Homo sapiens: one gene and its partners. The protein of the gene in region 3 purifies or fractionates together with the protein of the main gene of each other region. This does not show direct contact. Each region holds a gene or a part of one and is shown on either strand. Other genes may lie near its edges.

Region 1 (3,500 bases), on a different chromosome or scaffold from region 3:
AAACGATAAGTTGCTCCTGGCAGCAGCCAACAGTCAAATACATATTCAATACAGGAGCCAATTTGCCTAGTCATACCCCCTAAGTATATAAACTATGACTGAGTTGTTACATTACTTCCTGGGACTAATAATTGTTTCAGCAACAGTCAAGATCCTTTAGAAGCACGCAATGTTATATCTGCCGGAAAACCCTTCCGTTCTCTTGTCCAAAATAATTCAAATACTATAAGGGGAAAGAAATTACATCTTGGAGAATTCAGTGCCTTTGTGTCTTTGCCTGTTTGCGCTGGGATCCCTCCCTTGCTCCGCTTGATCACAGGGAACTACATCTCCCAGGCTCCCTTTGCCAACTGATTTCAGGATAAGTTCCATCAATGGGAGGCACTGAGGAGGATAAGAGGCAGGAGCAGGGAGCAGCCAGGGTAATACGCTCTCTCACTCGGCCTACTTCCAGCTGCCACCAGACTGCTCCTCTTTCCATGCTTCCGCTCACACCAGACCACTCGGACTTCCAGCCCTTGGTGACACCAGTGCACTATTTTCCTTGCAGGCATAGTAGTTCCCAGGCATTGCTAATCGAATGGGTGCCTCACCAGCCCCTGTTCAGCTTCTTGGCTCTTCTAGCAGCCTTGTAACCTACTCCCTATTTTAAATTCCCTCTGCTTATAAGACCAACAGTGGCTTCTGTTCCTCTGACTGGTCCTTGACTGACATAGGGCCTTCCAAACATATTTTAAAACTTATTTTTCAGAAAATTAATAGCTTTCCTAAGAATTAAAACAATTATTCAGATAACCTAGAAAAGGTCTCTTCTAATATGAAACAAAACATTTACAGATGATAAAATCAATTCATGCATTCAAACAAATATTTACTGAGAGCCTGGTCTGTGCCAAGCACTGTTCTAGGTGCTGGGAACACTACAGTGAACAAAACAGGCATAGGCCCCTGCCCCCTAGCTTACATTCTAGGGATGTGTAAAGTGTGGCACATTATGATTTTAAAAATTAGCCAATATAGGACTGTTGCTTTAACAATAGAGGAATTTGGTAAAAGTGGATTAACTTTAAGGTGTTCTACTCTACAAAGACTTGGTTCTTACCTTTTCAATGTGGTATGAACTGTCACATTCCAGGGGCCAATACAGAACTTCTTCAAAGCTAGTATCTAGTTAAACTGGCCACTTGATCAAACAGGAGTACAACTGTGGTAAGGATTTAAGCAGACACAATAACAAAAGGTAGGCACTGTATGCTTACAGTGTAAAGCATATGCATGTTTTATGCAGAATCTTGCTTGGCATCATTTTTACAGGAAATACCATTTGGAGGAACTGAGTCTGACTCAATTTAATAAGTCACTTTATCCCTTCACTGTAGCACAGGTAGAGTCCATCAACATAACATACAAAGCCAGTGGCAGTGTACATAACAAGTAGAATGTCGCAGTCACCGATTGCATGACACGATTTCCAAGATGGAATTTTCAGGCAGAAGAACAGAAACAGACAATGACTCATGTGATGAACAGTTATATAGACAACTGTGCCCAAGAAAGCTGCCACCTACATACCATAATGACATCAGATGAAAAATGCAGAAAAAAGGTAGTTTTCCAATTTATCTAGAAAAAAAAGATTTGCTGAAAAGTATATATACTGAGAGATGAGACTGCAGCTACCTGTTTATGCATCCTAAGCACTGAGCAACCAGGAGCACACATCAGGTATTCCAAATATGACCTGCTTGAGGCTAAGAGCATGTTCAGCCTCAAAAATCAACATCAAGAGCTCCAGAAATAACATAGTATCTACTGCTGGCACTTCACTAGACTTATGCTAAAATAATTTAATGTACCCACAAAGGTACATTTCAATGGAGAATTTAATCGGCACCATGCTCAGACCTTTCTTACTATTCAGCGATCAGGAAGCGTTTCATGCCTGCAATATTTATAACCCCATGTGAATAGCAGGTGGACCTACAATACTATGGGCTTCTTACACAACAGGAAGTCTAAAGCACAGTGCATATTCAAAATCTCAATGCCACGAAGCAAGTCAACCACAGAGCTCAGGTTTTAACCTTACAGTATCCTGACTACCTGTCAAACTCTACTCCTCATCACTCCTCAACATGCAGTCAAAATATACTAAAGAATCCCCACACGCACACACACACACACAAAACAGTGCACCTTCGAGGCTTTGCACATTCTGTTCCCTCTTCCTAGAATACAAAGTTCCCTAAATTAGCTTGGCAAAGTCATACTTATCCTTTAAGACACAGCCTACTTTTCTCTTTGAAGCCATGACTTCCCGAGGAAGACTTCTTTGCCTTCTTCAATGCTTTCATTTCTCCCTGTATACCATGCCACAATAATTTCTGTATTGCATCATTTATATTTGTACACATCTGCTTCCCCATTAGACTGTAAAATCCTTGAGACTAAAGACTCTTTCTTTTAATCTATATGTCCCGGTACAATGTCTGAGAAAAAGTAGGTAGTAAGTGCTTAAGAAACATTTTCTGAATGACTATATGTAGTGGGGGATCTCAGGCTTGCGAAGTTCCCCTAAAAGATATACATTTTCTATTCTTCATCTCACTGGCACCAAATGATATTTAAAGGGCAAGGAGAACAAATAGGAAAGTATCTCTCAGGGAACAGGTTTAATATGTTGACATTAAAAGACAATCTAATGGGGATTTTGATAAATTACTTTCAGTAAAACTATCAATCTAACCATGACTGTCAGAGTTATAGTGCACTAGCTATAAAAAACCAGAAATATATGTGATCTTGGCTAGAGAAAGGCGTTTAACAACTAGAAATGGAAGCAGAACTCCTTCTGTTGTTTCACGCCATTGAATTTTTTACTTTTTAAAAGGTACCACAGGCTGGGTGCGGCGGCTCACACCTATAATCCCAGCACTTTGGGAGGCTAAGGTGGGCGATCACCTGAGGTCAGGAGTTCGAGACCAGCCTGGCCAACATGATGAAACCCCTCTCTACTAAAAATACAAAATATTAGCCAGGTGTGGTGGCAGGCGTCTCTAATCCCAGCCACTCGGGAGGCTGAGGCAGGAGAATGGCTTGAACCCGGGAAGTGGAGGTTGCAGTGAGCCAAGACCACACCACTGCACTCCAGCCTGGGCAACAGAGCGAGACTCCATCTCAAAAGAGAAAAAAAAAAAGTGCCACAGATACAGCTAAAATAATTTTAAATTGATAGGAAAGTTCATTTCTAAGGAATATTTAACAAGCAATGACTTGGCTATCAACAGAAAACAAATGTAAAGCAAAGCTAAAGATTAATGTACATGAGTTAAAACTTAAGACAACTATGAGAAAATTTCTACACAAAGAAATTCCCTGGTCTAATCTTTCATACAAGTTTGAAATCGGGAAACATCCAGAGACCATCCTCAAGGGTACCATAAAGCACATTTGCAAAAATGCCAGAACTCCATATATAGGAAATGGTTTTGGCTTAAAGA
Region 2 (3,500 bases), 1.5 Mb from region 3:
ATATTCTCTGATCATTCTAGAATCTAAAATCCAACATGTCAATAGTTGAAGCTAGAGGTAATATGCTATTATCTTTTTTTTTTTTTTTTTTTGAGACGAAGTCTTGCTATGTTGCCTAGGCTGGAGTTGCCTAGGCACAATCTTGGCTCACTGCAGCCCCCACCTCCCAGGTTCAAGCGATTGTCCTGCCTCAGACCCCCGAGTAGCTGTGATTATAGGCACCTGACACCACGCCCAACTAATTTTTGTATTTTTAGTAGAGACGGGGTTTCATCATGTTGGCCAGGATGATCTCGATCTCCTGACCTTGTGATCCGCCCGCCTTGGCCTCCCAAAGTGCTGGGATTACAGGCGAGAGCCATCGCGCCCAGCCCAATTCTTTGTTTTTTTTGAGACAGGATATCTCACTTTGTTGTTTGGGCTGGAGTGCAATGGTGCAATCATGGCTCACTCTCCAGGCTCAAGCAATCCTCTCAACTCAATCTTCCAAGTAGCTGGGACTACAGGTGCACACCACCATGCCTGGCTAATTTTTTTGTATTTTGTAGAGAGCCATGTTGCCCACATCAAACTCTTAAACAAATTATCCTTCCTTTCCCACTAACAGTATCCTAAAGCAGAGTTGAGACAGTGGAAAAATTATTGTTTATAAGCCAGGTCTGGTGGCTCAGCCTTGTAATCACAGCACTTTGGGAAGCCAAGGCAGGAGGATCACTTGAGCCTAGGAGTTCGAGAACAGCCTGGGCAACATGGTGAATGAAACTCCATCTCTACAAAAAATACAAAAATTAGCCAGGTGTGGTACCAAGTGCCTATGGTCCCAGCTACTTGGGAGGCTGAGGTGGGAGGATTGCTTGACCCCAGGAGGTGGAGGCTGCAGTGAGCTGTAATCATACCCCTATACTTCAGCCTGGATGACAGAGTGAGACTCTGCCTTAAAAATAAAGAAAAAAAGCCCAGGCATGGTGACTCATGCCTGTAATCCCAGCACTTTGGGAGGCTCAGGTGGGCGGATCACTTGAGGCCAGCAGTTCCAGACCAGCCTGGCCAACATGTCAAAATCCCATCTCTACTAAAAATATAAAAATTAGCCAGGCATGGCCAGGCGCGGTGGCTCACGCCTGTAATCTTAGCACTTTGGGAGGCAGAGATGGGTGGATCACAAGGTCAGGAGTTCAAGACCAGCCTGGCCAACATGGCAAAACCCCGTCTCTACTAAAAATACAAAAATTAGCCAGGCGCGGTGGTGGGCGCCTGTAATCCCAACTACTTGGGAGGCTGAGGCGGGAGAATCACTTAAAACTGGGGGTGGAGCTTGCAGCCTCAGCGACAGAGTGAGACTTCATCTGAAAAAAAAATTAGCTGGGCATGGTAGCGGACCTGTAGTCCCAGCTGCTTGGGAGGCTGAGGCATGAGAATCACTTGAATCTGGGAGGCGGTCACAGTGAGCTGAGATTGTGCCTCCAGACTGGGCGACAGAGCCATACTCCGTCTCAAAAACAAACAAACAACAACCAAAAAAAAAAAAAAAAACCAGGAGTTCAAGACCAGCCTGAGCCTGAGCAACATAATGAGACCCTGCCCCTACAAAAAATAAAAAAATAAAAAATTAGTCAGGTGTGATGGCACACACCTGTGGTCTTAGCTACTTGAGAGGTTGAGGCAGGAAGATTGCTTGAGCCCAGGAGTTCGAAGCTGCAGCAAGCTATTGCAGCCATTGTACTCCAGCCTGGGTGACAGATCAAGACCCTGTCTCAAAAAATATATATAAATAATAACAATAAAATTATTCTTTCTTGGTTGAGAACACACAGACACACATACATATGATGCTATTCTTAAATATGTCCAGGAAACAGAGATCATGGTGGGGAGGTCTATTTCAGGATTTAATCCCTTGTTTTCACTCAGTAAATTCTTCCTCGAGTCTATCCCATTTCCACCAGCCCATTCTTTGTGGAAACCAAAGACACTCGCAATTGGCCGGGCGTGGTGGCTCATGCCTGGAATCCCAGCACTTTGGGAGACAGAGGCCAGGGGATCACCTGAAGTCAAGAGTTTGAGACCAGCCTGGCCGACATGGTGAAACCCTGTCTCTACGAAAAATATAAAAATTAGCCGGACATGGCATCACGTGCCTGTAATCCCAGCTACTCAGGAGGCTGAGACAGGAGAATCGCTTGAACCCAGGAGGCAGAGGTTACAGTGAGCTGAGATTGCGCCACTGCACTCTAGCCTGAGCAACAAAGTGAGACTGTCTCAAAAAACCAACCAACCAAACAAACAAAAAAACAAAGACGCTCTCATAATAATCCAGCAATAAATTCTCAAGTGGGCAGTCCTTGATCCAGCCCACTGCTGGGTAATTATTTGTTCTGTTTCATAGCAGTAGGTTCTGTCTTCCAGGGAGGCTGTGAGCTCCTTTGAGGCAGGGACATAGAGCACCCCGCACAGTGCTGCCCACAGTCATGGGTTTTACAAACTGACTGCCAGACAAACTGAAAACCCGAACCTCTCCCAGCTTTGCTTTCTGCAAGGACAAGAACTCAACCTCTGCCGAGTGCGGTGGCTCATGCCTGTAATCCCAGCATTTTGGGAGGCCGAGGCGGGCAGACGGCTTGAGCTCAAGAGTTCAAGACCAGACTGGGCAACATGACGAAACCCCGTCTCTAAAAAAATACAAAACTCAGCCAGGTGTAGTCTCAGCTACCGGGGAGGCTGAGGCAGAAGGATCACTTGATCCCAGGAGGTCGAGGCTTCAGTGAGCAGTGATCATGCCACTGCACTGCAGCCTAGGCAACAAAACAAGACACTGTCTCAAAAAATATATATATAGGCCAGGTGCGGTGGCTCACGCCTGTAATCCTAGCACTTTGGGAGGCCGAGGCGGGTGGATCACCTGAGATCAGGAGTTCAAGACCAGCCTGCTAACATGGCGAAACTCTGTCTCTACTAAAAGTACAAAAAATAGCTGGGCATGATGGCAGGCGCCTGTAATCCCAGCTACTGGGAGGCGGAGGCAGGAGAACTGCTTGAAATCAGGAGGCAGAGGTTGCAGTGAGCCGAGATCTGGCCATTGCATTCCAGCCTGGGCAATAAGAGCGAGACTCCGTCTCTTGAAAAAAATAAAAATAAAAATAGGTCGGGCACGGTGGCTCACGCCTGTAATCCCAGTACTTTGGGAGGCCGAGGCAGGCGGATCACGAGGTCAGGAGATCGAGACCATCCTGTGACTGGTGAAACCCTGTCTCTACTAAAAATACAAAAAATTAGCTGGGCGTGGTGGCGGGCACCTGTAGTCCCAGCTACTCGGGAGGCTGAGGAGGGAGAATGGCGTGAACCCAGGAGGCGGAGCTTGCAGTAGCCGAGACTGTGCCACTGCACTCCAGCCCGGGCGACAGAGTGAGACTCTGTCTCAAAAAAAATAAATAAATAACTAAAAATAAAAATAAAAATAAAAATCATATATTTAAAAAAAACATGCTTATCAAATAAAAGAA
Region 3 (3,500 bases):
TTGAATCCCAGCAGCGAAGGTTGCAGTGAGCCAAGATCGAGCCACTGCACCCCAGCCTGGGCAACAGAGCAAGACTCTGTCCTTAAAAAAAAAAAAAAAAAAAAGTTACTAAGGTAGAGCGTTAACAATAGATGAATCCTGTTAAAGGATATTCAGATGTTCATTGTACTATTTTTATTTTTGCAATTTCTTTTTTTGTTTTGGTTTTTTGGTTTTTTTGAGACAGAATCTTGCTCTGTGGCCCAGGCTGGAGTGCAGTGGTGTGATCTGGATTCACTGCAACCTCCCACTTCAGCCTCCCAAGTAGCTGGGACGACAGGCATACGCCACTACACCTGGCTAATTTTTTTGTACTTTTTTTGTAGAGATGGGGTTTTGCCATGTTGCCCAGGCTGGTCTCAAACTCCTGAACTCAAGCGATCTGCCCACCTCAGCTCCCCAAAGTGCTAGAATTATAGGCGTGAGCACTGTGCCTGGCCTATTTTCGCAATTTCTTATCAATTTGAAATTATTTTTTTCAAAAAAGCAGGTTGCCTACAGAAAGTGAGTTTCTTCCCAGGTAGTCTACAGGCAGACACTAAACAAGCACTTACCAGAGAAGACAACCCTGCACTGACTCACCATGGCTAAGCTTCGCCCGCCATTTACATACCCATAACTCCCAACATCAACCTCCAGCCCACGAGTCCCTCCTGAGCATCAGCCTGCATTTCCCACTGGACACTTCTCTACTTGGGTGCCTCTCTGGTACTTAGAGGTGTTCAAAATCCCATTCAGCAGATTTCCTCAAACCCCATCTCCTACAGCATTCTCTCTGCCCAGGTTACTCTGATCAACCTGGTCATCATTCTAGACATCTCTCCTCACACCACCACGCAACTGGTTACTAAGTTCTGCTGAAACCATGTTCTCATTATTCATTCAACACATTTAACTCATTTATTGGATGCCCAATATAGACCTTGTCCTGCTCCAGGTGTTGGCAATAAGGCAGGGGCCAAAAAGCAAAAACAAACAAACCCTCCAAAGTCCGCTTTACCCATGGTGCTTACCACTGCCTGACATACAAAGATTTCTGTTTTTATTGTCTGTATTCTTCCTCAAGAATATAAGCTCTATATGGGCAGGTATTTTTGTCTATTTTGTTGACATGACAGATTACAATAAACCTTTGTTGAAGTTCCTCATATCTAACACAATATTCAATATACTGCAAGTGCTGAACAAATCTTTGTTGAACAAAGAATAACTCGTGGAGCATAATAAAAATACATATTTGGTCTTTGCTGCTAGTTCTTGGCACAGAAATCCTAAAAGGCCTGGAATTTCCTCAGTGATACGAGGGACATTAGTTATTCAGAAAGAGCCACTTTCAACCATACTGAAGTTTACGCTAAGGGGGCAACCCTTGGGGAGAGAGGGGTTGGCCTAGGATAGAGCTTCAGGATGAGGCTGGTTCCCAGAAAGACCAAGCCCTGAGGGCTAGAACTTCCAGGCCCCTTTCACTCCCACTTCAGGGAGGGAAGGCTGGAGATTAAATCAATCACCAATGGCCAATGATTGTTTTTTTGTTGTTGTTAGAGACAGGGTCTCCTTATGTTGTCCAGGCTGATCTCGAACTCCTGGGCTCAAGTGATCCTCCCACCTCGGCCTCCCAAAGTGAATGAGCCACTGCACCCGGCCATGTGGCCAATGATTTAATCAAGCATGCCTATGTAACAGGATCTCCATAAATCCCCCTAAACAGGGTTGGAGGAGCTTCTGGAGTGGTGAGCCCAAAATCCATGGAGACAGAGGCTCCTGCACTTAGGGACCCTTTCAGACCCCACCCTTTGCACCTCCTCATCAGGCTGCTCATCTGTATCCTTTATAATAAACTCTAATAGTCAGGAGAGCATTTTCCTGAGTTCTGTGAGTTGCTCTAGCAAATTATCAAACATGAAGGGGGAAGAGGGCTATGGGAACCTCCAAATTTGTACCCAAGTCAGAGAGGTGTGCCTGAGAGGCCTATGGACCCAGACTGTCTGTCTGTAGGACTGAACCCTTAAACCTGTGGAATCTGACACTAACTTTGGAGAGTTAAGTGTTAGAACAGGATTGAGCTGTTGGACACCCAGTTGGTGACAGGGAATCAGAGAACCAGAGTCAGGAATTCCAAGACTTTCTAAATATTTTAGGAGGAAAAGTCGGGAGACATTGTATGTTTTCTTACACAGGGTTTCCATCTGTGAATTATTTTGCAAATGTTTTATAATTTAGTTATATTAGAATAGCAATAATAGGCCGGGCATGGTGGCTCACACCTGTAATCCCAGCACTTTGGGAGGCCGAGGTGGGCGGATCATGAGGTCAGGAGATCGAGACCATCCTGGCTAATGCGGTGAAACCCCGTCTCTACTAAAAATACAAAAAAATTAGCCGGGCATAGTGGCGGGCGCCTGTAGTCCCAGCTACTCGGGAGGCTGAGGCAGAAGAATGGCGTGAACCCGGGAGGCGGAGCTTGCAGTGAGCTGAGATCGCACCACTGCACTCCAACTCTAGCCTCGGCGACAGAGCGAGACTCTGTCTGGAAAAAAAAAAAAAAAAAGAAAAAGAATAGCAATAATAGAAAAATAAAAACACACGTTTGGGTAAAAATAAGTAGAAAAAACAGAAATTCAAGGACAAAGGTGAAGCACACTTAAAATTTCTATTTTACCTATAATAAACTGATATTTTTAATGCAAACGCTTTTTTTTAAAACCAACCTAAAATTTCTCCAATGCCGATGAAAATGCCAGAAAGTCCAATAAGGCTTTTCTCTTCTGCTCCAAATTTATTTGTAGCACCAATACAGGTTCCATATACACCAGAGAAGAAAGTTAATTCCAGACCTTTAGTTAAAGAAAAAAAACAGATGTCATTTATATATTCACATTTTTGTTTATCTTCCCATCTAGTAGTATCTGACGAAAGAATACTTGCGTAGTAAAACACATAAAACTCACAGAGACTGAAATATTAATCCCCAAGCAGAGCATAATGTGATGTAACTGATGAAATGGAATTAGCTTCATGCTATGGACTAAATGTTTGTGTCCTCCCCAGATTCACATATTGAAACTCAAATTCCCCAAAACATGATGGTATTTGGAGATGGGGCCTTTTGGAGGCAATTAGGCCATGAGGGTGGAGCCCTCTCGATGTGATTAGTGCCCTTATAAATAGAGACAACAAAAAGCTTGCTTCCTGTCTGCTCTCTGCCATGGGAGGACACAGCAAGAAGGCAGCTGTCTACAACCAGGAACAGCCCACACCACAAGCTGCGCATGGTGGCATCCTGCTCTCAGACTTCCCAGCCTCCAGAACTGTGAGAAATAAGTGTCTGTTGTTTAAGCCACACAGTCTATGGAAATTTGTTATAGCAGCTAAAATTAAGATACCACAAGACGGCATCTGCCATATATTTCAGGTAAAAGTATACAACTCAAATGAACAGATATCCTTATGTTAAAACCTAT
Region 4 (3,483 bases), on a different chromosome or scaffold from region 3:
GGTCCACCTCCCCACAGACCTCCCCTGCTGCCATTCAAGGGCCACCTTGGTGAGATGCCCCGGCCCCCACCAGCCACCTCAGACTCTGGGATCTCTCTGTCCTCCTCGCCCCTCCCCCACTCTCAACAGGGGTTGTGAAACAGGTGGGGTTGGGCCCAGGGGTGACTGACACATAAGACCTGCAGGACAGCCTGAAGAGGGTGGCATGCCCCGCACCCAGGCAGAGGGGCAGCGGCTGGTGTGTCAGGGGTGCCCTGAGGAGTTTCTTGTTTGCCCTGCGCTCATGGTTTAGCCACAGCCCAGCATGGCACTGTCCAGAGAGGCCATGGCCCTGTCATGCCTCCCATGTTCCAAGAAGCATCTGGCTCCTGGAGGGCTGCTCCTTCCTTTCCCCCAACCCCTCACCCTCCTGTCTCCAGGGCACCCTCCCTCCCCCATGTGACCACGCCCTGGACGGAAGCCCTGCTGGGATCCCAGTGACCCTTGGTTTAGAAGATGCAGACGGTGTCAAACTCTGCTTTATTGGAATAGAGAATACAGGCAGCAGGAATCACGCTTGGTGCTGGCAGCTCCAGGTCCCCTGCCCCCACGGGCTCTCCCACTTGTCTGGATCAGGGGAGACCTCCACTTTGAAGAACAATATGGGGTGGGAGCTTCCAATGTGCATTCTGCTACCAGCCTCAGGATTAGCAGCAAGATGCCAACAGCAACAGCAACAGCAACAGCAACAGCAACAGCAACAAAGGACTGGACTCGACACTTCAGGAAAGGACGTGTAGAAGAGAAAGTCAGACCCACAGTGTCACGTGTTAACAACGGTCCCACAACAGCAGACACGACACTGGTGTGCACGGCTGTACCACCTGTGGGAGGCTGACAGCACACCGACAGCCCTGAGGGGCCCGGCATTCTCACTCCCAACATGAGAAAGAATTAACACAACACACACACATGTTCACATTCTCTGCGAGGACAGTCAAATTAAGGTACCAAAGGGAGGATAAAACATTTTTAGAGAACACAAAAGCCTGCTGCCCTGCCCCAGTAGGCGTCAGGCTGGACACGACAGGCTGGCTGTGGCCTGGGCTAGCCGGTGAGCTCGACAGGCAGCTCACGGCCACACAGGGCCTCCCACTGGCGAGCCAACAGCGAGATGAGCTTCTCTCTGCTCTCAGCACTGGGGACAAACACCTGCCACTGGACTTCACGGCCCTGGCTGGCTCTAGCCGGGCCACCTGGCACCTCCCCAAAGTGGTCCAGGGTGACACTGCCCATGAGGTCATGACCTTGCACGTCATCGAAGACGAGGGTGAGGGCCTGCGGGTAGGTCTGGTAGCCCATGAGCACTCGGTCCAGGTCCCGGACGCGGCGGCCATCGTCCAGCCGGTACCTGTCTCTCTGCGGCGGCTCTTTGGCAAACTCGGGCAGTGGGTAGTGGACACAGTCCTCATCCAGGAGGAAGATCTCGGAGCTGGTGAGCAGGAGTGTCTTGGGGCGCAGGGGGCCCCTGCAGCACCCAGGGGGTGGCATGCCCACCTGGAAGGCCTGCACGTACAGCAGGATGCTGAGGGCTGGGGCCTTCTCTGGCTCAGCCATCTTTTGGGCCACAGTGAACGTCAGGTCCCCAATCTCCTCCTCACTGGGGTAGGTAAACTTGACGCGACTAGAGTGGATCAGCTCGTAGTTCTCCATCTTCCCTGCAGAGAGATGCCACCTGGGCTATAGCCTGGAACCGGCCCCTGGTGGGGCTGGGAGCACCAAGGGCCCCAAGCCAACCGAGAGACCCCGGCATGAGACAGGCAGGAGAGGATGCTCCAAGTGTGGGGCCCACAGGCCAGGAGCCCAAAGCAGGCACTGGAGATGTGTCTGCCAGATGGTTGAGGGACTGCTGGAGTGGAGACTCTGCCATCGAAAAGCCCCACATAAAACCCTGGCCAGCTAAGTGAGAAAAGAGAGACATAGAGGCAGAGAGGGTTCTGGGGCACAGAGAGCCACCCTGGGGCCCATGACGTCTGTCCAGGCAGCCTGTCTGCAGCCTGAGCTAGACAGGGGTACCTGTGGTCTTGTTCCCAAACTCGGAGTAGAAGTCCTTGTCAACAGGCTCCGGCGAGGGCGTGCGTTCCAGAGAGGACAGCACGACCATGAGGTGCTGGAGGAAGCAGTGCGTCAGGTAGCTGTCCCGCGTCAAGCACGTGACCACCTGCATCGGGGTGGAACCTGCACGAGAAGGGGCTGGTCAGGGCCACAGGCCGGCGCTCCCCAGCCCTATCCCTGCCCCTTAGAGCCACCCCGAGTCCCTAGCAAGCCTCAGCCCAGAGGCCAGGGCCAGGAGGGCCCACACAGGAAAGAATCATGGGGCCCGGGAGGAGGCCATTCCTTCAGGCCGGAAGAGCTGAGGCATTTTTCTGGAAGGGGAGACAGAGACATTAGGCAAAGAGCTTAGCTTTCTCTCCTCAGGAAATGTGAGTCAGAAACATCCTGCCCGAGACCAGGGCCCACTCTGCTTCTGTCCGGGCCAGCGCTTGCCGCACACCCTACCTCCTGCTCTGAGCCCTGGAGCGTGAGTTCTGCTCTCTCAGCAGTTCCTGAAGCTGCTTCCTCCCACCCCGGTTAAGAAGTGGCTCTTGAGCACAGAGATAACTGTCTATGATAACCCACCCACGTACGGAAGGTGGAAGCCCACTGGTGATGCTGGCCTTCACCCGAAATAGGACAAAGCACAGAGGGTCACCCACCCGTCAGCCGGAAATGCTGGTCGAAAAGCCCCACATTGACTGACTGCAGGTCACTAAGCTTTAGCACGAAGCACTGGGAGATGTGGAAAGGGCTGTTGTTGTAGTCGGTGTTTTTCTGATGCCAGAAATCTGTGTGATGGAGAAAGGGACAGAGGGAGGCGGTGGCAGGCAAGCACAAGGTTCCTAGGTGTGCAGCACATCCAGCAGGAACAGGTCCTCTTGGCTGGCCTGGCTTCCACCCGTGCAAAGCCCCATAGGCAATGCCCTCTGGAGTCGGAGCCTCTTCCAGCTCAGGGGAGTCACCAGGTCGCTGGCTAGGGCTTCCTGTGCAGCCCCAGGGGCAAAGGCTGCCTAACCCCTTCTCATCACTGGCTGTTCCCAAGCAGTCACCAGGCCCTGGCTCAGTGCATTCTGCGTTCACATCTGGCCATGGACCCCTCCCTCATGACAGCTCCCTTCCTCAGACAAGGAACTCTCAGCCCACTGCAGCCAAGTCGCTGACTGCTGCCTGAAGCCACACAGCTGGCTCCAGAGAATGACCCCCCAGGCCTGCCCCAACCACACACTCCAAGCTCCTGAGCCCCAGCAGGCCCTGTGCCTACCCTGCAGTGGCTCTGAGAAGTAGCGGCGGAGGCCGTCGTGGAGCACAAAGTACACAGCCTTGGTGGAGAGCAGCACGCAGGCAGTCACCTCCAGCCCTGGGGTCTGGTAGAACACCACCGAGGACCACATGAGGTGCCTCAGCTCC
Region 5 (3,500 bases), 7.5 Mb from region 3:
TGCCTGTATTCCCAGCACTTTGGGAAGCCAAGGCGGGTGGATCACTTGAGGTCAGGGGTTTGAGACCAGCTTGGCCAACATGGCAAAACCCCGTCTCTACTAAAAAAAAATATACAAAAATTAGCTGGGCATGGTGGTACGTTCCTGTAACTCCAGCTACTCAGGAAGCCGAGGCAGAATTGCTTAAATCTGGGAGGCAGAGGTTGCAGTGAGCTGAGATTGCACCACTGCATTCCAGCCTGGGCATCAGAGCAAGACTCTGTCTCAAAAAAAAAAAAAAAAAAAAAAAGGAATGAAGTACTGCTATATGCTACAATTAAAATGAACATACAAAACGTTATGTCAAGTGAAAGTCAGACTAAAAATGTCAAATGTTATATGATTCCCTTTATAGGAAACTTCCAGAAAAGATAAATGTAGGGACAGAATGCCAACTGGTGATTGTCAGAGGCCAGGGAGAGTAAAGAATGAGGAGAAACTGCTTACAAGGTAAGGAGTTTTACCTTGGAAATAAATTTTACCTTAATAAATTACTTCAAAAAATAACATTGAATGATCTAAATCATTGTACCTATCACAGGTCCAGTATCCCTCTTCCAGGGTACATTTACCCTTTGAAGATCCTTGAAATCCTTTCTGCCTGTGGACCTCTATTGGAGCTATCTCGATTCTTCAGAGGTTTCATTCCAGCTGAACTCAAAATAGAAGTGGTCAGAGTCTCAACTGCAATGTCCACTGCCCCTATTCAAATACACTCAACCCAGTAACCTAGGATCTCTGCATACTAAGAAGTATTGAGAAGATAGCAGGGGAAATAACAACAACAACAAAAAAATCCTGTTAAACCTTCCAGAGAAATTGCTGTGCCCTTGTTTTAAATAAACCTATCTAGTGAGGCCACTGCTATAACTCTCCTCCAAAACAAGGACCATCTGTTGCAAGCTGGAAGACTGTCTACACCTAAATAAAGAAAACTCACAATTTTTTTTTTTTTTTGAGATGGAGTCTCACTCTTTTGTCCAGGCTGGAGTGCAATGGCACAGTCTCGGCTCCTGGGTTCAAGCAATTCTCCAACCTCAGCCTCCCAAGTAACTGGGATTACAGGCGCCTGCCACCATGCTCAGCTAATTTTTGTATTTTTAGTAGAGATGGGATTTCACCATGTTGGTCAGACTGGTCTCAAACTTCTGACCTCAGGTGATCCATCTGCCTTTGCCTCCCAAAGTGCTGGGATTACAGGAGTGAGCCACCGTGCCTGGTCCATAATTTTTGAGAGGCAGTTTGTCTTTTCCAGTAAATATATATAATTAAAGTTTGGCTTAAATGAGCATCTTCTTTATATGCACAGAAGGAAGACTGGAAAGAACTGTTTAAATTAGCAATGGAATTAAAGACAACTTTTATTTTCTTCATGCTTTTTTTCTATGTATTACTTACATAGTAAAAAAAAAGCAATTAAACAATTAGACATACTGTAAAAATACTAAATGAGTAAATTAAAAACAGCAAAACAAAAGCAGTCAAGAATAGAAGATACATTAAAATAAATTCTTCCAGCATTCCATTCCAAGGCATCTGTGAACCTGTGGAGTAGACACCATGAGCAAAGCTTACACTCCCGAGTTGAAAAAATTGATGGACAAAAAGTTATCATTGAAAATTAAATGGTGGCAGACATGTCCAAGGAATATTGTGGGGATTTGATCCCTTTATGAATCTTGTGATAGATTAATGTGTGGAGATGGCAACTAGTGGGCAACAGAACAATATTGGAATGGTGGTAATGCGATGTAATGGCATCATCATGTTAGAAGCCTTGGAACAAGTATAAATAATGGCTGTTCAGCAGAAAAACCCATGTCTCCCTCTCAAAAGGGCCTGTTTTACTATGATGTAAAAATTAAGTCATGTATATTTTCATATTAGACTCTGTTAAATAAACTTCTGTAATGGTCAATAAATAAATTCTTCTAACAGTCTCAACTATGTTATATCACATTTAGCAAAGAGTTGATAATAGGAGGGAAGGAAGGAAGAAAGCTGTACTCATTCAAGCATTATTTGCTACAATACAAACATAGAAACACTAACCTAATGCAGCATGAACATTCTCAAGTTACTTGCCAAAACACATTGATTTTGTGAATGCTACTAAATTATTAATCCACTTTGAATGTTGGATGCTTAACTCTTCATTTTTATATAACAGACTCATAGAGTAGATGGATTCACAGAATTTTTTGTTTTTTTGAGAACTGCTTCCTGAACTCAAGGTTGAGTCTCTAAGGGCCTTGTCTAAAAAACCTGCCCACCCACTCCACCTCTCATCACAGCTTTTTAAAGCAAAACTAAACCAACTCCCCAAACACCATCCCAACGCACACAAACCATCACCACCACCACCACTACTCTTGAGCTGTGTCAGTTAAAATTTCTCTTGGCAGAATTAACTAAGAGACCCACAGACTGGATGGAAGTCAAGGAAACTGAATTACATGAATGGCAACATTTAAGAAAGAAAGTTTACACATTCTTACTCTAAGCTTTCTTCTAATGTACCACACCTACTGTGCTCACAACTCGATTTTTCTTCCTTGGAGTATGTGAAATGTCCTATTATCTTCCCAATATATTTTCATTTTCACTTAAGCTAACCAGTATCAGATTCTATTTCTTGCAAAAAAGCATCTTAACCAATATTACAAAGGCACCAAAATTAACAAACATAAGAACTAATAATGCCCAAAGTAGTATAGGTTAAGAGTATGACCTCTGAAGCCAAACCAACTAAACATGAATCCTGCCTCTGCTACATACTAACTTCAAGACCTTGGGCAAGTTATTTAATGTTTTTGCGCCTAAGTTTTATTATCTGTAAAATACAACAATAGTAGTACCTACCTCTTTGGGTTGTTAAAATGACTAAAAGAATTAATACATGAAAAGCTGAAAATGGTGGCTTGTACATGGCAACTAATTATACACATTGATCACGATTGTGTATAAAAGTATAACTAATATCCTTAAAAGAGTAATAGAGAATATCATATTCTTGGAACAAGAGAAAGATAATTAAGAAAAAAGCAATTACAGAACTTAGAAATGAAATAAAAAACTGATAGAAATAAAAAAGCACTAAAAGATGGGGTGAACTTCATTTAAAGACGAATTAGTGAGCTAAATTGAAGCGTGAGTCAAAGAAACCCTACAGAATGAATTGCAAAAGGACAGAGAGAAAAAAATGATGAAAGTATTAACTCTGTCATCAAATTATACCAATGACTCAGTATTATGAATGACCTCAACAATCTGATTTTTCTTATACTCAAAAGCTTTAGTCTAATCATATGAAAATATTAACTTTCAATAATCTTGAGCTTCAATTCAAGTTATTGAAACAAAAAAAAAATCTCTTAAGCCCATCTGATCACTGGTTTTCTTCATAGTATGAAATACATGGTTTAGCTGTTTGATTGAAAAGAATGAAACATTCTTAACAT
Region 6 (3,500 bases), on a different chromosome or scaffold from region 3:
CAACTCCCGACATTTATAGTCACAGCACAATGTTTTCAAGTCACTTAAAATAATTATTTCAGTTTTGTTAGTGTCACCAACTTCATATACAGTTAGAATAATGTTTCCTTTTGTCTCAATTTTTGGCAGTTACTTTTGATTTCATCTTTTAAGTTATGTAAAAAAAATGTACACAGATACAGACACACACACACACACACACACACTTTACTTGCTTATCCACTCCCTCTTCCAAATTCCTTCCCAAACTCAGAGGTGAACCAATTGTATTAGATTTGGTTTATCATCCCATTGTTTGTCTCTTTGTGTGTATATGTGTGGGTTTGAGTGTGTGGTGTTTTCAAAGAAAAACATATTGTCAATATCACACTGTGGTAAAATATAGTTCTCCTTCCATTTTACCATTGTGTACACATAGTATCTTATTCCATCAGTCCTCTATTATTGGTATTTACATTGTTTCCAGTTGTTTGCTTCTGCAAACATTGGCACAATAAATAATTTGCGCAAATACCATTTACTATATTTGACAACTATCCTGAGAATAAATTTTTCAAAGTAGGATTTCTGAGCCAAAAAGTAAATGCAGATGTAATTTGGCAAATAATGCCAAATTTTCATTCACTAGCAAGGAATGAATATACTTGTTTTCAGTCACTACTGCCAACAAAGTATGTTGTCAACATTTTGGATTTTTGCCACTGTGATAGAAATGGCATCTAAGTGTAGCTTTAATTTGCATTTCTATTATGAGCAAGATTGGACATCTTTTCAAATGTTTAAAGGTCATTTGCATTTCTTTTTTGTGAACTAGCTGTTCATAGCTTCTATTTTGCTTTGGAGGTTGGCCTTTTTCTTCTCAAATTCTGAAGCTCTTTATAGAGTAAGGATATTGGCCCTCTGTCTGTGATATGATTTGTAAACTTTACTACTTAGTTTGCTATTTGTATTTTGACTTCAGTTAAGGTTTTGTCTTCATCCTGTAAAAGTTCATCTGTCAAATTTATCTTTTCTGCATTCAAAATCATAGTTTAAAAAGTTCTCCCACTTTTAGGTTATAAAGGGATTAATCCTAATTTCCTTCATATTCATATCTGTCTATACATTTTGTAATAAAAGGTCAGACTGTTTATAAAATCCTTGGTTTGTTTTATTTTCCTGATTTAAATATGTCACACCATTGCTTATCCGTTTGAGGCACTGTAGTCAAGAAGCAGCATGTCAATCTGATTTTCTAACATTTATAAATTAATTGATCCTTTTGCCTAGGTATTTAGGAGTTTTGTTGTTTTCTTAAAGTTCAAGAATTTCACTAACCTGGGTTGATTTTTTTCAGGATTGTGGTGTCTTTTCAATATGCAGGTCCCTGTGTTCTTGATTTAATGTTTTGCATTTGTCCAGTTCTATTCCTTTGGTTTTCTTCTTCAGATGCTCCAATTACATACATGTTTAGTTTTCTTTATGTGACTTTTAGACATTTTCTCTCAAATCCTTTACACAATTTGTTGTTGATGTTTTCATTCCTCCCGTTTATGTTCTATTTCCCTGACTGTATTTCCAATGTATTTGTACTTGTGTTCTTCCAGTTTTGTGGAAATGTTTTTCTTCTAATTCTTTCCAGAGGTCTGTAAATTCTCTTTGCACATACTCCCATTGTTTAGTTATCTCATTTCTGAGCTTCTCAATTTCTGCCTTATGCTGTCCTGTTATAGCTTTTATAGTATTAAGTTAAAGTGTTCATCTGCTCTTTTCACATGCCTTTATTAAAGTGTCAGTATTTTGCTTAGCTTACTTTCTTCAACTTCTTAAAAAGTATATTTGTATAATGCTTTGTTGCAATCCTTTCCAGGTGCTCATGTTTAAATGAAAAGAGCTTTTGTACTTTCAAGAAAAGGTTTCATTTGCGGTGATGGAATATGCCAGCGTTGCTTTGCTAGCTTCACTGTTCAAGGGCTCCATCCTCTGTTGATATACAAAGTATTTGAAAATATGGCCTCCATGTATATTTATCTCCACAGTTTTGAGATGATCTCCCTAATATGTCAATCTGTTCTCTCCTTCCTTCCTAACTCCTGTCCTGTAAACATTGGATTCTACTCAACTTTTTTCTTGAGGATATGTATTTGTATCCTTTTGCAATAATTTTTGCTTCCACATTTCCTAACGTCTCTGAGGATTTAGGATGGTCCAGTTCCTTCTGATCTCGAAGATACTTAGCAGGTCTCTTGTGGTCTTTTTGCACTTTCTCCAAGCTAGAGCATGCAAATCTTGTCATTTTTACAGATTATTCTTGGAAATATTTGCTGGGTGTCCTCTTCTTTTGGGACAAAGTATTTGCTTTGTGTATCAGGGCTCATATGATCCTTAGTAACTCTTTTTGCTTTCCTTCACAACCTCCACACAGCTGCTAAGGCCGTTGGGGTCCCTGCTGTCACCATGTTTAAATACCAATTTTTATCCTGGGGTTGTGGAGTACACCTTATTATCCAATTTTTAATGAAAATTTTATGTGTGTGTGTGTTTGTACTGCTATTCTAGATCTATTTCCATAGATTTGAGAAGATAAAGATACCATACTGCTTTCAAGACCTTACCCCAACCAGAAAATCCTTTCTTGTCTGTTTAAGGATACAAAGCATATGATGACATAATTTAACTACGTGACAGCATTTTTTCTTTTAATAGTTTTAACTAGTTATTATACATAATTTGAAAAAATACAAAAAACAAAAATAAAACATAAAACACTGCCATATTCTTAGAATCACTTACGTTCTTCTTGGCCTTAATCTCTGATCACTATATGGAATCAATGCCACCAGTTGGTTTTCTTGCCCTAAATGTGAAAGAAGTAAGTTCAGAAATTACTATGATTAGTTAAAAATATAATGGCTCCCCATCACAATCTGGTTTGGAAAGACCAGAATATCATCTGGCACTCATCTCTTTCCTTTAGTAAATTGCTAAGTCTTCAGAAAGTATCCAGCAGAAGTTCTAGAGAAGACAGCGTGTTTTTTCACACGTAAATGTCTAGCTAAAAAAAAAAAAAAAAAAGTATAACAAATGAGGGCTTACTTTTTCTTCCACTAAAAAAAATCTAAGTCCTAGCTTTCAGAAGAGCTAAATTTACCAGGCCTTCCTTCAGCTTCACTGGTGTCCATTAAGACTCTGATTTGGTTGTCTGGATGATAAAAGAAGAAACATATTGGTATCGCCCTTTCCTGAAACCTCTATCATCTCTATCACTGCAGAGCTTCTGACATTGTCCCCCTTGAAAACCAAAACCGGCCTCTGAAGTAGAAGTCTCAAGCTTTAAGAGCCCCCTACATAATGAGCCTTCCAGGGCCCTTTCAGGTCTCACCCCAATCCATGTTAAAGTCACTTCAAAATCCGTGATTTCTTTCTTGGGTTGAGCTATATCCATAAGTTTAAAGGATAAATGGACCTTTAAATGCCAATTTTATAATCTTATTAGAAGTTGGCTTATCATATTAACTATT
Region 7 (3,500 bases), on a different chromosome or scaffold from region 3:
AGCCTGGGTGACACAGCAAGACTCCATCTCATAAAAAAGGCTAGGTCTTGAACCCCGGGCTGTCCGTTGGGTTGTGGTTCAAGGGAGTGGAGTCATCCAAACTGTACCTGGGCCACAGGAGGTGGGGTCTCTGAAGCCTTCTGCTCCTCTCCAAGGACCTCATTTAGCTCCGCCTGCAGGGACACACAGCCAGGGCAGGATATAAGGGCCTGCTGGATGGGGGCAACCGGATCAGAGCCCCCACCCCGCCCTCAGTGCTCACCAGCAGGTCATCATCAGCCTCCAAGTCGTCCTCATCCGTCCCCTCCTCCTCATCCTCATCCGGGTCTCTCATGCACAGGCTGGCCATCTTCTCAATGGCCTCCATCGGCAAGGGACCTGGCGGTAGGGGGATGCCCCAGGTGGACCAGGGTCGTACACCAAGAGCCCCCATTTCCCATCCTGGACACGCTAGGTGATCCCACTTCTCGCTGACTTCCCCATTTCATCTCTTCCTTATTCAGCCTCAGGTCTGGGGCCTGGCTACCTGAATTCAAAACCCAGCTCTGCAGACCGGGCACAGTGACTCACGCCTATAATCCCAGCACTTTGGGAGGCCGAGGCAGAAGGATCACTTGAAGTCAGGCGTTCAAGACCAGCCTGGCCAACATGGTGAAACCCTGTCTCTACTAAAAATACAAAAATTAGGCTGGGCGCAGTGGCTCACGCCTGTAACCCCAGCACTTTGGGAGGCCGAGGCGGGTGGATCACAAGGTCAGGAGATCGAGACCATCCTGGCTAACACGGTGAAACCCCGTCTCTACTACAAATACAAAAAATTAGCCAGGCATGCTGGCGGGCGCCTGTGGTCCCAGCTACTCGGGAGCCTGAGGCAGGGGAATGGCGTGAACCTAGGAGGCGGAGCTTGCGGTGAGCCAAGATCGCGCCACTGTACTCCAGCCTGGGCGACAGAGCGAGACTCCGTCTCAAAAAAAAAAAAAAAAAAAAAAAAAAATTAGCTGGGCATGGTGGCGTGTAATCCCCGCTGCTAAAGAGGCTGAGGCAGGAGAATCACTTAAGCCCAGGAGGCAGAGGTCGCAGTGAGCTGAGATTGCGCCACTGCACTGCAGCCTGGGCAACAGAGCAAGGGTTTGTCTCCAAAAAAAAAAAAAAAAACACACACACACAACAACAACAAAAAAAACCCCAGCTCTGCAACTTTCTCTCTGTGAGAACTTCGGCAAGTGATGTCACCTCTCTGAGCCTCAGTTTCTCCCTCTGTGACACGGGGATGACAACAGTTCCTCCTTCATAGGTAGGTTGGAGCAGAGAAGGTCAATGAAGCTCTTAGAATAGCATATTGCCAATATCTTGTTATTAGTTATGTTACATTCTATAAAGCTGCTTTGAAGACTAAATTAATGACTATAAGACTGTTGCTCCTAGGGGAAATTTAAGCTTAGGTTCCTGTGAATCTCCAGTCATAACCTTTTTTGGAGACAGGATCTTGCTCTGTCACCCAGGCTGGAGTGCAGTGGCCCAATCAGAGCTCACTGCAGCCTCAAACTCTTGGCCTCAAGTGATCTTCCTGCCTCAGCCTCCCGAGTAGCTGGGATTACAGGCATGCACCACCACACCCAGCTCTGGTCACAAAATTTTAATCAACTGATCAATACACAACCTTGCTCTATGTGTGTTTCTGTTTGAAGACACCTTCCTGAATAGATATCGTTCATTCATTAACTTTGAATTCACAGCCAACAGCACAGTAGTTCATGCCTGAATGAAGCTTCTCTCTTTTTTGTTTTTTGGAAACAGGATCTTGCTCTGTCACCCAGGCTGGAGTGCAGTGGCGCAATCTCTGCCCACTGCAACTGCTGCCTCCTGGATTCAAGCGATTCTCATGCCTCAGCCTCCCAAGTAGCTGGGATTACAGGTGTTCGCCACCAAGCTTGGCTAATTTTTGTATTTTTAGTAAAGACAGGGTTTCACCATGTTGGCCAGGCTGGTCTCGAACTCCTGGCCCCAAGTGATCTGTCCACCTTGGCCTCCCAGAGTGCTGGGATTACATGCATGAGCCAATGTGCCTGGCTGACATGAGCTTATTGTGTGTGAGGGGGCCCTGGGTGAAATACTTATGGACTCCAGATTAACTCCTATAACATGGTTATTATTCCAGTTTTACAGATGGTGAAACTGAGGCCAAAGCACATGATGTGACTCATCAAGTCACATAACCAGTAAGTGGCAGAGCTCGGATTCCAACTCTCAGTCTCGGTCCAGACTTGATCTTTTTTTTTTTTTTTTTTTTTTTGAGACGGAGTCTTGCTCTGTCGCCCAGGCTGTAGCGCAGTGGTGCGATCTCGGCTCACTGCAAGCTCCGCCTCCCTGGTTCACGCCATTCTTCTGCCTCAGCCTCCTGAGTAGCTGGGACTACAGGCGCCCGCCACCACGCCCGGCTAATTTTTTTTTTTTTTTTGTATTTTTAGTAGAGACAGAGTTTCACCGTGTTAGCCGGGATGGTCTCAATCTCCTGACCTCATGATCTGCCTGCCTCGGCCTCCCAAAGTGCTGGGATTACAGGCGTGAGCCACCGTGCCCGGCCTCAGAGTCGATCTTGACTCTCTTACCCAGATCATTGGCTCCAGGAGAACAGGGGTCTTCTCTGTCTTCTTTCCCCTACCTACCCAGTGCCCCCAGTTCTGCGCCCGAACCACTTGCAGGAGATCAGAAAATGTTCTGAGGGTGTGTTAACCATCTCACCTTTGCCTTTGAGCTTCTCCAGGGCTGGGGGCTGGCCCCCGACCAAAGCCAAGAACTCAGCCTCCAGTTCTTCATCGTTAGCCCCGTCCTCAGGGATCATCAGGCCATCTGGGGAGAGGTCAACCAGCAGGCCCAGCTAGGGGAACAGCAAGGGTTCAGTCAGACCTTTGGTTCACCACATGGCTAGAGGCAGCCATGATGGCCAGAGAGTCCCCTTGGGAGGAAGGAAACAAGGTCTCCCAGGGAAAGCCATTTCCCTGGGGAGTGCCAGGAGGCTGGAACAAGCCCAGAACAGGTGTTCCAAGATAGGCCAGGCCCTCTGGCACAGTTCAACCTGGGGCAAAGGGCAAGAGACCCAGCTCTCTGATCTGAATCCACACTTATGATGTGCTGCTGGGCCAAGTTCAGTGGGAAAAGCAGGCCCCTGGCTGGGCGCAGTGGCTCACGCCTGTCATCCCAGCACTTTGGGAGGCCAAGGCAAGAGGATGGCTTGTGTCTGGGAGTTCCAGACCAGCCTGGGCAATACAGTGAGACCCCCAACTCTACAAAAAAAAAAAAAGTTTTTTGTTTTTTGTTTTTTTTTGACACAGAGTCTCGCTCTGTCACCCAGGCTGGAGTGCAGTGGTGCAGTCTCAGCTCACTGCAACCTCCGCCTCCGGGGTTCATGCCATTCTCCTGCCTCAACATCCCGAGTAGCTGGGACTACAGGCGCCCGCCACCACGCCCGGCTAATTTTTTTTTTGTATTTTTAGCAGAGA

Evidence for each region.
Region 1: the proteins of MFSD11 (region 3) and SMAP2 purify together in Homo sapiens (affinity purification with mass spectrometry; one large-scale study listed by BioGRID and IntAct). This does not show direct contact.
Region 2: the proteins of MFSD11 (region 3) and SLC25A19 purify together in Homo sapiens (affinity purification with mass spectrometry; one large-scale study listed by BioGRID and IntAct). This does not show direct contact.
Region 4: the proteins of MFSD11 (region 3) and NISCH purify together in Homo sapiens (affinity purification with mass spectrometry; one large-scale study listed by BioGRID and IntAct). This does not show direct contact.
Region 5: the proteins of MFSD11 (region 3) and ABCA5 purify together in Homo sapiens (affinity purification with mass spectrometry; one large-scale study listed by BioGRID and IntAct). This does not show direct contact.
Region 6: the proteins of MFSD11 (region 3) and TMEM106B purify together in Homo sapiens (affinity purification with mass spectrometry; one large-scale study listed by BioGRID and IntAct). This does not show direct contact.
Region 7: the proteins of MFSD11 (region 3) and CC2D1A purify together in Homo sapiens (affinity purification with mass spectrometry; one large-scale study listed by BioGRID and IntAct). This does not show direct contact.

What each region holds. Positions count from the first base shown.
Region 1 is NC_000001.11:40,380,227-40,383,726, reverse strand, and holds part of SMAP2 (stromal membrane-associated protein 2), read right to left. Parts: exon of another isoform or gene 1,103-3,500; intron 1-1,102.
Region 2 is NC_000017.11:75,279,434-75,282,933, forward strand, and holds part of SLC25A19 (mitochondrial thiamine pyrophosphate carrier), read right to left. Parts: intron 1-3,500. UniProt on the Homo sapiens protein: Mitochondrial transporter mediating uptake of thiamine diphosphate into mitochondria. It is not clear if the antiporter activity is affected by the membrane potential or by the proton electrochemical gradient.
Region 3 is NC_000017.11:76,769,119-76,772,618, reverse strand, and holds part of MFSD11 (UNC93-like protein MFSD11), read right to left. Parts: intron 2,874-3,500; coding exon 2,748-2,873; intron 1-2,747.
Region 4 is NC_000003.12:52,490,086-52,493,568, reverse strand, and holds the end of NISCH (nischarin), read right to left. Parts: coding exon 3,338-3,483; intron 2,865-3,337; coding exon 2,736-2,864; intron 2,218-2,735; coding exon 2,056-2,217; intron 1,698-2,055; coding exon 1,087-1,697; 3' UTR 501-1,086; downstream 1-500. UniProt on the Homo sapiens protein: Acts either as the functional imidazoline-1 receptor (I1R) candidate or as a membrane-associated mediator of the I1R signaling.
Region 5 is NC_000017.11:69,317,134-69,320,633, forward strand, and holds part of ABCA5 (cholesterol transporter ABCA5), read right to left. Parts: intron 1-3,500. UniProt on the Homo sapiens protein: Cholesterol efflux transporter in macrophages that is responsible for APOAI/high-density lipoproteins (HDL) formation at the plasma membrane under high cholesterol levels and participates in reverse cholesterol transport.
Region 6 is NC_000007.14:12,217,794-12,221,293, reverse strand, and holds part of TMEM106B (transmembrane protein 106B), read right to left. Parts: intron 2,837-3,500; coding exon 2,773-2,836; intron 1-2,772. UniProt on the Homo sapiens protein: In neurons, involved in the transport of late endosomes/lysosomes. May be involved in dendrite morphogenesis and maintenance by regulating lysosomal trafficking.
Region 7 is NC_000019.10:13,909,201-13,912,700, reverse strand, and holds part of CC2D1A (coiled-coil and C2 domain-containing protein 1A), read right to left. Parts: intron 2,879-3,500; coding exon 2,743-2,878; intron 379-2,742; coding exon 263-378; intron 174-262; coding exon 108-173; intron 1-107. UniProt on the Homo sapiens protein: Transcription factor that binds specifically to the DRE (dual repressor element) and represses HTR1A gene transcription in neuronal cells. The combination of calcium and ATP specifically inactivates the binding with FRE.